Linked DNA regions of Homo sapiens: region 1 is linked to region 2. A link means that fine-mapping ties the variant in region 2 to the expression of a gene that starts in the linked region. Tissue or cell type: whole blood. Region 2 holds a variant in brackets; the other region holds the start of a gene. All regions are shown on one strand. Distances are between the middles of the regions.

What was found. PIP is the estimated chance that this variant, and not a neighbour inherited with it, causes the effect.
Region 1: SPG7 starts here. The variant in region 2 is fine-mapped to the expression of SPG7 in whole blood (TOPMed, PIP 0.98).

What each region holds. Positions count from the first base shown.
Region 1 is chr16:89,505,144-89,510,378 of GRCh38, reverse strand. SPG7 (SPG7 matrix AAA peptidase subunit, paraplegin) reads right to left here and starts at 1,976. Exons shown (of 17, transcript NM_003119.4): 1 at 1,779-1,976. The coding sequence starts at 1,961. It overlaps LOC101927863 (a long non-coding RNA gene), which reads left to right and starts at 2,059. Exons shown (of 5, transcript NR_188547.1): 1 at 2,059-2,142; 2 at 4,232-4,420; 3 at 5,226-5,235. RefSeq lists silencers at 1,483-1,602, 1,633-2,192, 2,263-2,472, 2,593-2,662 and an enhancer at 4,482-4,531.
Region 2 is chr16:89,316,940-89,322,128 of GRCh38, reverse strand. It overlaps ANKRD11 (ankyrin repeat domain containing 11), which reads left to right. Exons shown (of 13, transcript NM_013275.6): 3 at 5,051-5,189. The coding sequence starts at 5,110. LOC128462377 reads left to right here. Exons shown (of 2, transcript NM_001416403.1): 2 at 5,054-5,083. The coding sequence ends at 5,083. It overlaps LOC100287036 (a long non-coding RNA gene), which reads right to left and starts at 1,677. Exons shown (of 4, transcript NR_168302.1): 1 at 902-1,677. RefSeq lists a silencer at 1,225-1,304 and enhancers at 1,635-2,148, 1,825-2,204, 2,149-2,661, 3,923-4,514, 4,515-5,106. The variant A/G (reference allele first, on the strand shown) is at 2,643.

The DNA of each region.
Region 1 (5,235 bases), 190 kb before region 2:
TCTACATTGCCCTGAAATATAAAGTAATAGTCTGAGCAATAGGTCAAAGCTTTAGGTAACATCAAAATGTCAAAAGCAAGTAAACAGGTTAAAACACAGTAATTGGCCAGGCGTGGTGGCTCACGGCTGTAATCCCAACACTTTGGGAGGCTGAGGCGGGTGGATCACATGAAGTCAGGAGTTTGAGACCAGCCTGGCCAACATGGTGAAACCTCATCTCTACTAAAAATACAAAAATTAGCCGGGCGTGGTGGTGCACACCTGTAATCTCAGCTACTCAGGAAGCTGAGGCAGGAGAATCGCTTGAACCCGGGAGGCAGAGGTTGCAGTAAGCCGAGATAGCACCACTGCACTCCAGGCTGGGCAACAAAGGGAAACTCCATCTCAAAAAACAAACAAATAAACAAACAAAAAATCACGATAGTGGCCAGGCACGGTGGCTCATGTCTGTAATCCCAGCACTTTGGGAGGCTGAGGTGGGAGGATTGCTTGGGCCCAGGAGGCAGAGGCTTCAGGGAGCCATGATCAGGCCACTGCACTCCAGCCTGGGCGACACAGCGAGATTGTCACAAAAAAAAAAAAAAAAAAAAAAGAAGAAAACAAAACACAGAAGTACATTGGCTGCTATCCCATGGCCTGAAGCTTCTGCAGGAGAAAGGGAGCAGCCCAGCTCTCCAAAGGCCACAGTGGCTGCCCAGACACGGGGCTCCTGCTGTCACCAGAGAGTGGCTCCTTGTAGAACATTTCCAGGTACCAAACCAGTTAACAAGTATATACTTTCAGAGTTCTCCTTTCAAGATAAACATTTTCCCATTTAAATATGTTTTATGGCCGGGCGCGGTGGCTCACGCCCTGTAATCCCAGCACTTTGGGAGGCCGAGGCAGGCGGATCACAAGGTCAAGAGATGGAGACCATCCTGGCCAACATGGTGAAACCCCGTCTCTACTAAAAATACAAAAATTAGCTGGGTGTGGTGGCGCGCACCCGTAATCCCAGCTACTCAGGAGGCTGAGGCAGGAGAATCGCTTGAACCCGGGAGGCGGAGGTTGCAGTGAGCCAAGACCATTGCACTCCAGCCTGGGCGACAGAGCGAGATCTCTGTCTCAAAAATAACCGAAAAAACAACAACCTAAAAGGTGTGGGCTAAGCTCCTAGGCGAGGGCTAGGAGAAAAAAACATCAGCCCAAAAGCTGAAGGACACAAGGTCTGGTTTTCGGGAGGAGATGCTATCCTATCCTTAGCAGAACCTGAAACAAGGCCGCACTACAGGGGGTGCTCAATGACTGTATCAATAACGTGCCGAGCTACATGACAACAGCAAAATGCAGCTACAGGGTATTTTGCGGACACAGAAACGTTCTGGGCCCCCTACTCGGCAATAACCACCCTAACTGGAAGGCGCTGGAATTCCTGGTGACGGAATCGATCCACAGGCGTGGACTGTAAATTAGTGCTACGCCGGAAACCGTTACTGGATTCCACTTTAAAAGGCGAGGAAGACGGGCGGAGAACATCCACACACAACAGACGGGTTGGGAAAGTCCACGCCGAGGACTGCGCGGATCCCAGCCCTGCCTCTTCCCGGCCCGCCCAGCGCCCACGATCCAGGGCCCCAACAGTCGCTCCGCGCCGAGGTCCACAGCTGGGGGATCCGCGGGCCCACAGGCGCAGGCTCCCCCGCCGCAGGGGCCAGGCGGCCTCCGACCCGCCCCGCCGGGCTGGGCCTTACAGAGCAGAGCCGGGCGGGAGGTGGGGCCCGGACTCCGCGGGGATTTACCTGCAGAGCTCGGCCTCCAGCCTCGGCGAGGTCCCCCGGAGGCCTGCTGGCCATGTACGGCCGCCCCCTCCCGGGCCTGGCGGGGAACCCTGGACTCCAGGCCGGGCCTGGGCCCCACAGCGGCCGAGGACCCGGGCCTGGACCCCGGCGGAGGGCACGGAGCAGCAGCAGCAGCACGGCCATGTTGGCCTGAAAGCCGCGCCTGCGTGATCCGCGGGGCGCTACACGGCGCCTGCGCGGCGGGGTGGGCGGGGTCTGACGTGGCGCCTGCGCGGTCCCCACAGCTGCGCCCCGCCGCGCCCGGGTGCCGCTTGCCGCACCCCCGAGCCTGAGCCCGTCTACCTCGTGGCTGCCTGAGGCCCGGGTATGGGGGCGCGCGTCTGCGAGGAGGTCGCGGGTGCCCTGGTTTTTTTGAAGCCGGCCTTGTATTCCCAGGGCCTGGCGGGTGAATAACCGGCCGGGTCGTGGCTGCGTGGTCGTGCTCCGCCCGCGCCGAGGGGCCTCACGCCCGGGCAGCCTGCGTCACCCGCAGGGTTCGGTCACAGGCGAGGGCGGATGGTGCGGGCCGGAATCCCGCCTGCGAGTAGAGGCCCGCGCTCAGGAGGGCGGCGCCGGAGGCCTCGGGTCGGGAGGGCCCCTTCGGGTGTGAGGAGCGCAGGAAGGGGGCGGTTTTCCTGCGTCTTGAGCCGCCCGAGGACGAGGACTGAAGTTGCAGCCGCCGCAGGGAGGGCAGCCCCGGAGGAGGAGGGTCGTGAGGGAGGGAGCGCGCAGTGCGGCGCGGCCTGGCAGGCGTCTGCAGAGCTCGTCCCGCACACCTCTGACTTCGGAGCGCTCCGTCCTGTGCCTTCGGACTGGCTCACCTCGGAGGCGCTTCGAGCCTCGGTCCTGCCCCGGCCGCTGCGCGAGCCCATCGTAGGAAGCGGGGAGGCGCCGTCTGGAAGCTTAGGAAGAGGCTCTGTTCTCTTCAGGGTCCGCCCTCCGGGCCCGGGCAGGGTCCCTCGTGGGCTCCCAGGCGCGCGGGGTCCTCCGCCACCCCGACCCCTTCCTCCGTCCGCCTTAGGTCTAGAGCTGACGCCAAGAGCTGGAAAGCTTGTTGAGTAGGAAAAGCAAAGACTAGATGGTCTGTCACAGAGGTAGGATGAGGGTGACCTATTTATTTTTATGCTTTTCTGTACTCCGCAAATTCGTAACAGTGAATGCCAGTGACGACAGCCAACATCACCGAGTGCCTAGCTCCGTGTCGAACACCCATGTAATATTCACAACCCTGTGCAGCGAATACAATACCTCTATTTTACATGTAAAGAAAGATTCAGAAGTATTAAAAGTAACCTGCCTAGGATTACAGCTCTGAAGTTAGGGCAGAATTTCAAGGCCGGTCTGGTTTGTTTCTGGACCTGCACTCACTCCACCACTACAGACGAGGTTGCAAAGCCAGTGGGCTGCGTGTAATCCTCCCTCTTCCTCAGCCCCGAGACGCTCAGGAAAGTGTTTTCAGTTATCGTGGTTATCCGCCCTCAGCCCTCCAGTGGGCCGGGTGCCTCGGCAGAGGTGCTCGGGGCTGGGGAGGTGTTCTGTTGGTTTGTGGAGAGGACCTTCCCCTACACCCAGGGCTGACACTGATTTTCACAACTGAACCGCTTTTCCTTTTGCTTCTTATTGTACAGTCAGCCTTCGCAGTGAATCCAACCTTGCCGTTTCCTCCTCCACTATTTTTTCTTTCCCTGATTGAAAGACACCAGGTGGGCCGGGCGCGGTGCCCTCCCCCTCCCTCTCCCTGCCCTTCATCCCAGCACTTTGGGAGGCCAAGGCGGGCGGACCACGAGGTCAGGAGATCGAGACCATCCTGGCTAACACGGCGAAACCCCGTCTCTACTAAAAATACGAAAAATTAGCCGGGCGCTGTGGCGGGCGCCTGTAGTCCCAGCTACTCGGGAGGCTGAGGCAGGAGAATGGCGTGAACCCGGGAGGCGGAGCTTGCAGTGAGCCGAGATCCCGCCACTGCACTCCAGCCTGGGCGACAGAGCGAGACTCCATCTCAAAAAAAAAAAAAAAGGTCACAAATCCTCTGAACGCACAGGCATAAAGGGTTGTGGGGCTCGGTCACTTCCTAGAACACAAAAAACCCTTTCGGAAGTTTGGTTGGGTTGGTCACGGGACAAGGCTGGAGAGAGGGTGAGGGCACACATTTGGATGTGTTTGGGAGGAGTTTAAGTGTAGTCCTATTAATATTGTTTGAGATAAGTTAAAATTGTTTCCTGGCAATTCATCAGAAGCAGTGTGGGGTGTTGGCAAGAGGCCTCCTCTGGGGAAAGAACACTGGGTTCTGTCTCCTCTGGCCTATGACCTTAAGCAAGTTATTAGCTTCCTCAAGCCTCAATCTTCTCAGCGGTAAAATGGGGATGATAATTATCTGCAAAGCAAGGCTAATATCAGCCTTGGGTTTCCCACAGGGTGGTTATGAAGATAAAATGCAATAAATGTGTGTGAGGGCAACTGACGAGCCAGGAAGCCTTGGCATCCAGAGTTATTACTGGGACGTCATGGGAAATGAGGATATGGGAACAGAGTATTTATGCATTTATTCAAACTCATCTCTAACAACCGTGCTTTGAAGGCTGGCTGCATCCCAGGCCCTACAGGTGAACCGTGACTCTCAGCTCTCAGCTTCAGCCCCTGCTGTAGTGGCGGCAGCAGCAGAGGCTCACGTAGCCTCAAGCAGTAGGGGTTTTGTTTAAGGATTCGGGTGCCCCATGGTTTGGGGGTTTTGTTTTTATTTTGCTGCATGATTTGGATTCAAGAAGAAGGATCTGTAGGACAGTGGGCTCCCGGGTCTGCCTTTGCCCTCATAGCCTGCAGCAGAGCAGGACGTTCGCTTTCCCTTCTCCGCCTGTGTGTTCTTCCTGCACTGCCTAACTGCTGCTTGCTCATTTGTGCTTCCGTGTCACCCCTCCTCAGCCCTCTGAACTCTGCACGTCAGGACTTGGCACACTTCCTAACTGCTGCTTACTCATTTGTACTTCCGCGTCACCCCTCCTCAGCCCTCTGAACTCTGCGCTTGGACTTGGTGTGACTTCCCTTCCCCGCCTATTCTCTAGAGGCAGTCTCTTGGTGACTCCTGGTTTGGGTCAGGGCACGCCTTAGGTCTCTGGATGGCTACCAACCCCAGGTTCCCTCAGCTCTAGCCCCATAAGAGAGGAGGCCTCAGGAGCGCCTAGGGCAGCCCTTTCAGCCTGGGCTGTGGGAAGGGAAGGTGGACAGAGAGGAGACCCCATGCCTTTGTTCCCTGTTGATGCAGAAGCATTCTAGGCTCTGTCCCTTATTCCTGCTGTGGGCTGAAGCTTCAGGCAAGGTGCTCTACAAACTTCAGTTGCCTCATCTATCAAACAGTAACGTTTAACATTCCAGAGACAGAAGTTGATCTTTGGGACTTTTTTTGATTTTAAGATCTAGGCTG
Region 2 (5,189 bases):
GTAGAACTTTTAACTTTCCCCAAACTTAACTAACAGCCTTCTGTTGACCAGAGCCTTCCTGACCACATAAAGCCAGTCACACACATTTTGTATGTTATGTGTGTTCTGCTCTTACTGTTAGGGTAGAGCAAACTAGAGACGTGAAAATACTGAGATCATGAGGAGAAAATAGACTTAAGCCTCGCGCAGCAGCAGCGGGTCTCCACGAATGGCTTTCGTCCTCCGGGTTTTCACGTTGAGGAGGCTGAAGAGGAAGAGGAGAGATGGGTCTTGCTGTCTCAGGAGAGGCAGAGGTGGAAGAAAATCTGCGTGTAAGTGAACCCACGCAGTGCAAACCCAGACCCAGGTTGTTCATGGTCAGCTCTGCTTACATTCCATCCCTTTATTGAAGGTGAATTTCAACCCCAAAGAAGTCTTTTTTTTTTTCTGTGAGTTTTAAGATTAGTTGTGTCATTACAAGTTTTTTCTTATACGGTCCTTCTCAGGTGTTAGTGTGCAGAACAGAACATGCTTAAAATGCAGGTTTGGGTTCAGAAGGCCCGAGGGGACCCGTGAGTCTCCATGGTCCACGGACTCCCTGGTGATGCCAAGGCCTCTGGCAAGGAGTGCTCCTGGGCAGCCCCTGCCCCGCAGCTGCGGCTCCCCACCCGGCCCCACAGTCCCCGCCCCGCAGCTCCCGCCCCACACCCTGCCCTGCAGGCCCCGCCCCACAGTCCCCTCCCCACAGTCCCGCCCTGCAGCCCCAGTCCTGCCCCGCCCGACAGGTGTCTCAGGGTTGTCCTGGCCCAGCTCAGATCCTAGAAGCCGGGGAGAGGCAGCGCCGGATTCCCCACCAGTGCCTGCTCTTGTCAGCTGAAGAGACCAGATAGGCTGAAATTCCTGGGGGTTTTGCCAAACTGACCTTGCCGTAGTCAGTGTAACCACTTCTGCATCAGGCTTAATCCTGGAGGAAGGCTCTTTGGTGCTCGCTGCATCTCCTGTGGAGCAGAGGGAATCGCAGCTGGGCTCCTGTGTGTGCGGAGGGGGAGGGCGCGGTGCCTGGATGGTTCAGGCGAAGGCTCTGTGCTCGCTGGCGCGTGGTGGGTGCTGGGAAACCTGCCCTGTGCCTTCCCTGGGCCGGTCTTGACAGCATCTGTCACCTCCTGAGTGCTCTTGAAGCCACCTTCCGGGAGGAGCAGGCCATCGTTGTTCCTGTCACGTCTGTCCTGCCAGCCCCGTAGAAGGATTGTCTTTTGAGCCCCATTGCAGGGGAGGTGGAGCCCCTCTGGGCTGCAGGGGCTCTCGCAGTGTGGAGAGGCACAGGGCAAGGACGGCTGTTCCCAGCATCAGCTGGCCCTGGATCCCAGAGCTGGCCGCAGACACTGTCCACTCCGCTGGGCTGAGTTGTGTCTTATTTTGGCACAGATGCGGGGCTGCCAGGTAATGGGCAAGTTCCCTGAGCCCACAGCTTTGGCGCCGTGGCTTCTGCTTCAGGGAGTGTGCCAGTGGCTCGTGTGGGGGACTCCCACCACCCTGGACTCTCGGTGACCCTGACAGTCCACGAAGCTGGGACGGTTGCCATCCGCCAGGAGGTGAAGTAACAAGGAATGCGTGGCCTGGGGGCGGTCAGGGCCAGGTGCTGGCCGGCCCCTCGGCTCTGCGTTTACCTTCCCGCGGCTGTGCCTTGCCGCTCAGCACAGGGCGTGAGTCAGCCCCAGTGGCCTGAGGCGTGTTTCAGTTTCCTGCTGATTCAAGGGTCGTGAGTTTAAAATAGACTTTGCCTGATAACTTGGAAATGAGGGAGATTTAGGCTGCACTTAAAATGAGTCTAGGCAGGGACAGCCAAGTCACCTTCCAGGGAAGAGTCTCCCCCGGGAGTGAGACCCGGTGCCTTCTGTTGTGTGGTCGGCTGTGCAGCATCGTGATGAGAAGGCACAGGGGCTGCGGAACTGTCTAAAGAGGGGACTCCCAGCTTCAAGGACTGTTTTATGTGACAGCCCTGCCAGGGAGGCCTGGGGACATCATCACAGCCCCCACCCTCAGACAACACCCATGAGTCAGCAGAGCCTGTTGGCCTGACTCCTGAGTGCCGTGCAGCCCCTGGTAGAAGTCACTGACACGGCTGAGTAACGGTTCCTCGGCCCTCGGCTGGCTCTGCCATTTCACGGCAAGGGGTGAGGCTGACCAGCCCTGAGCCTGGTGGAGGGAACACAGGGCAGTGTGGGGGCCAAAGGTGCCAGAGGCATCACCAGGGCAGCTTCTGGGAGGACTGGGATGGCAAGTCTTGGAACAGAACAAAAGCAACTGGAGCCTCTGTCCTCATCTGGTCTCTCATTGAAAAAGACTCTAGAGTGGGCCGCGTGCTGCACGCCTGGTGCCTGCAGGCGGGTCCTGGGAGGTGTAGCCTGGGCTAGATGGCAGCTACATCCAAACCAGCTTCATCCACATCCAGCAGATGCTTCAGCAGGACATCTCAGCTGTCACCATCTCCATGACTGTGATGAGGGTGGTGGTTCATGGAGAGGCGGGGGCTGGGGTTGCAGGGCCTCGAGCACATCGCTGCCATCGGTAACATGTTGTAGCCAAGGCCAGGCGGACACGAGGGTCCTGGAAGGGCCACGGCCTGGATGGTCTTAGCTGTCATCGTGCAGGTGGCTGGAGAA[A/G]CGTCTCCAGAAAACACAGCGTACACCTGGGACAACACTCCCGAGTCCCCGGAGTGTTCGCTGTGATGCAGGCCGTGAAAAGTATTTTGCCTGGTGGGTGCGACCCACTTCCTCCACCTCCTGAGTGGACTCCCAGATCCCTGGTCCATTGGGGAAGGTGCCTGGGCAAAGCACCAAGCTAGGGACATGAAGAGAATCAGGTGTCTCAGGAGTGAAGTGATAAGCCCCGCACTGTCGGGGCCCAGACACCGTCCGGAGGCCGTGGGGTCTGCGCCCTGACCACGCCAGAGCTGTTGAGTGTGTCCGTGGGCCACAGACTCACATCTGGGATCAGGACGGTGGACTCTACATGGTGAAGGCCCCGTTTTTCCGTCCTGAGAGCAGACAGTCTGGATTTTTTAAAATGTTAATTCCAGATAATCCTTAAACTTGTAAACATTACCACTGAGTTTCTAGACAGCCATGAGCTTGAACAGCCTTCCGAGTCAGGTGCTGAGATGCCCTTTCTCCAGGCTGAGACATTCCGGTTTTGTGGTGGAAAATTGGAAGAGAATGTAAAATTCATTGGTTCAGGTAGAGAGAGAAAATATGTCTGGCCTCAGGCATCAGGGATGGTGGATGGAAACACCTGCTCACCTGCACCGCGGGTGGAGGTGTCAGGCAGTGAATACGTTGACCCGACCTGTCCCTCTCTCCAGAATAACTTCACCTGTGTTCTTGTACCAGTTAAATACCAAGACAGCAGTTGGTGGGATTTTATCATTTATTTTAGAAAGACAAAGCAGGTCATGAGATGGTGTTGGAGGAGAAGCATCTTGTGGTCTCAGCCAAGCCTGCGTCCAGGGGCAGGTGGCATGCAACGTATCCTTTAGCTGACGGGGTGGAGGTGGGAGAGGCTCACAGTGGAGCTGCCACTCACAGATGGGTCTGCACATCGTGTTTCAAAAGCCATACTTCGTGCATGAGCGAGATGGGTAAATGCAGGGGAGCGAGTTGCAGAAGCTGCTTCTCCCGGCATGGTCGCGCACAGAGGTGCTGCTGTGGCGGAAAGGGCAGAGACGTGCACACAGTTCCATTTGTATGAAATGTTTTCTAACTGACGGTGCGGCGAGGACATGATGGGGGGACAGTGGCTTTGGGTGTGGGTGTGTAGGTGTGTCCCCCATTCCTCTCGTGAGTGCACCCGGGAGGCCTGGCTGTGATGGTGAACAAACCTAGAAGGCCCACAGGCAGGGAGGAGGCCCATGCTCCGAGAGTGTCCATGCCAGGCGTGGCGTGGGGAAGTTGGCATCGCCACAGAAGAGACCAGGACGAGGCTGGGAAGGAAGAAGTGCGCTCGCACCGTGTGTCGCAGAGGGGCAGCCTCACACCACGGGGGTGGGAGTCGGAAGCAGGGGCTCGGGGAAGGCCTCCCCCAACTGCCTGTTGGGTTTCCTGCAGAAAGAGAGGGACGGGGCAGAGCAAATAGTTCGGGAGTGGCTGCTTCGGAAAGTTCTTGCAGGCTTTGTGCTGTAGGGACACTTTCTAGTTTCCTTTACCTGGCTCTGCGCTGGTTTCAGGCAGGGCTTGGCCTGGGCGTGAACTTGGGTAAGAAGGTGATTGGGTTGCATGGGAGCCCTTGGCTATCTAGGAATTTGCCAGCCCTGAGAGAGGGGCAGTCTCTCCCTGGCCAGAAACTTGTTAAGATGGCAAAATTTCCTAAAATAAAACATGATTAATAAATAAAAATAATATACAATTAATACAGTATGTGTCCTCGGATTTCCTGGGAAACCCAGGAGCTGGAGCCTGAGGCCCGAGGGGGCGTCTGCTTCCATGGGCGTGGAGTTGGGACCTCGGAGCTGCTGGGACTCGCTCAGAGACACCCCTTGCCTACCAAGTTAGGGAACTGGGTGTGCAAAAAGCACAGGCCTGGTGGGGACAGGAGCTCCTTCCCAGGTGGTGAGTGGGGCGTGAGGCTGGGGCTGTGGACATGACCTGCCAGACCTGAGGGCTGGGGTACTGCGCTGCGTGTTGTGACCTTGCCTGTAATGCGGGGAAGGGACTGCCTTGTGGTGCCTGACCGTTTTGGGTGTAGCCTGTACCAGGTGGGACCCAGGATCCAGGTGCTGCTGACTGCCACCCAGAACACAGCCACACCCTAGGCCATGCGTCCCTTTCTGCCACTACAAAGTGCTTGACCCTTCTCTGTTCTCCTTCCTGCTCAAAGCTGCCATTCCTGTTGCTGGTGACCCCTTTATGGGAGGCGTATCCTGAGAAGTCCCTTCCTGGGCCTGGCCCGGGCCCCAGCCCTGATCAGAGCAGCTGCCTGCCTTGACTAGTTACTGAGTCTGTTGAGTGCGGTGTGAGAGTGGATGAGTTTTGAGCTGCCTCTGAATTCAGTGAATTGTGTGTCTTCTCTTTTGAAGCAGACGGTTGATGATGAAGCGCCGGCCGTGTAAATGAAGATCGGGTGAGGAGCAGGACGATGCCCAAGGGTGGGTGCCCTAAAGCACCACAGCAGGAAGAGCTTCCCCTCAGCAGCGACATGGTGGAGAAGCAGACTGG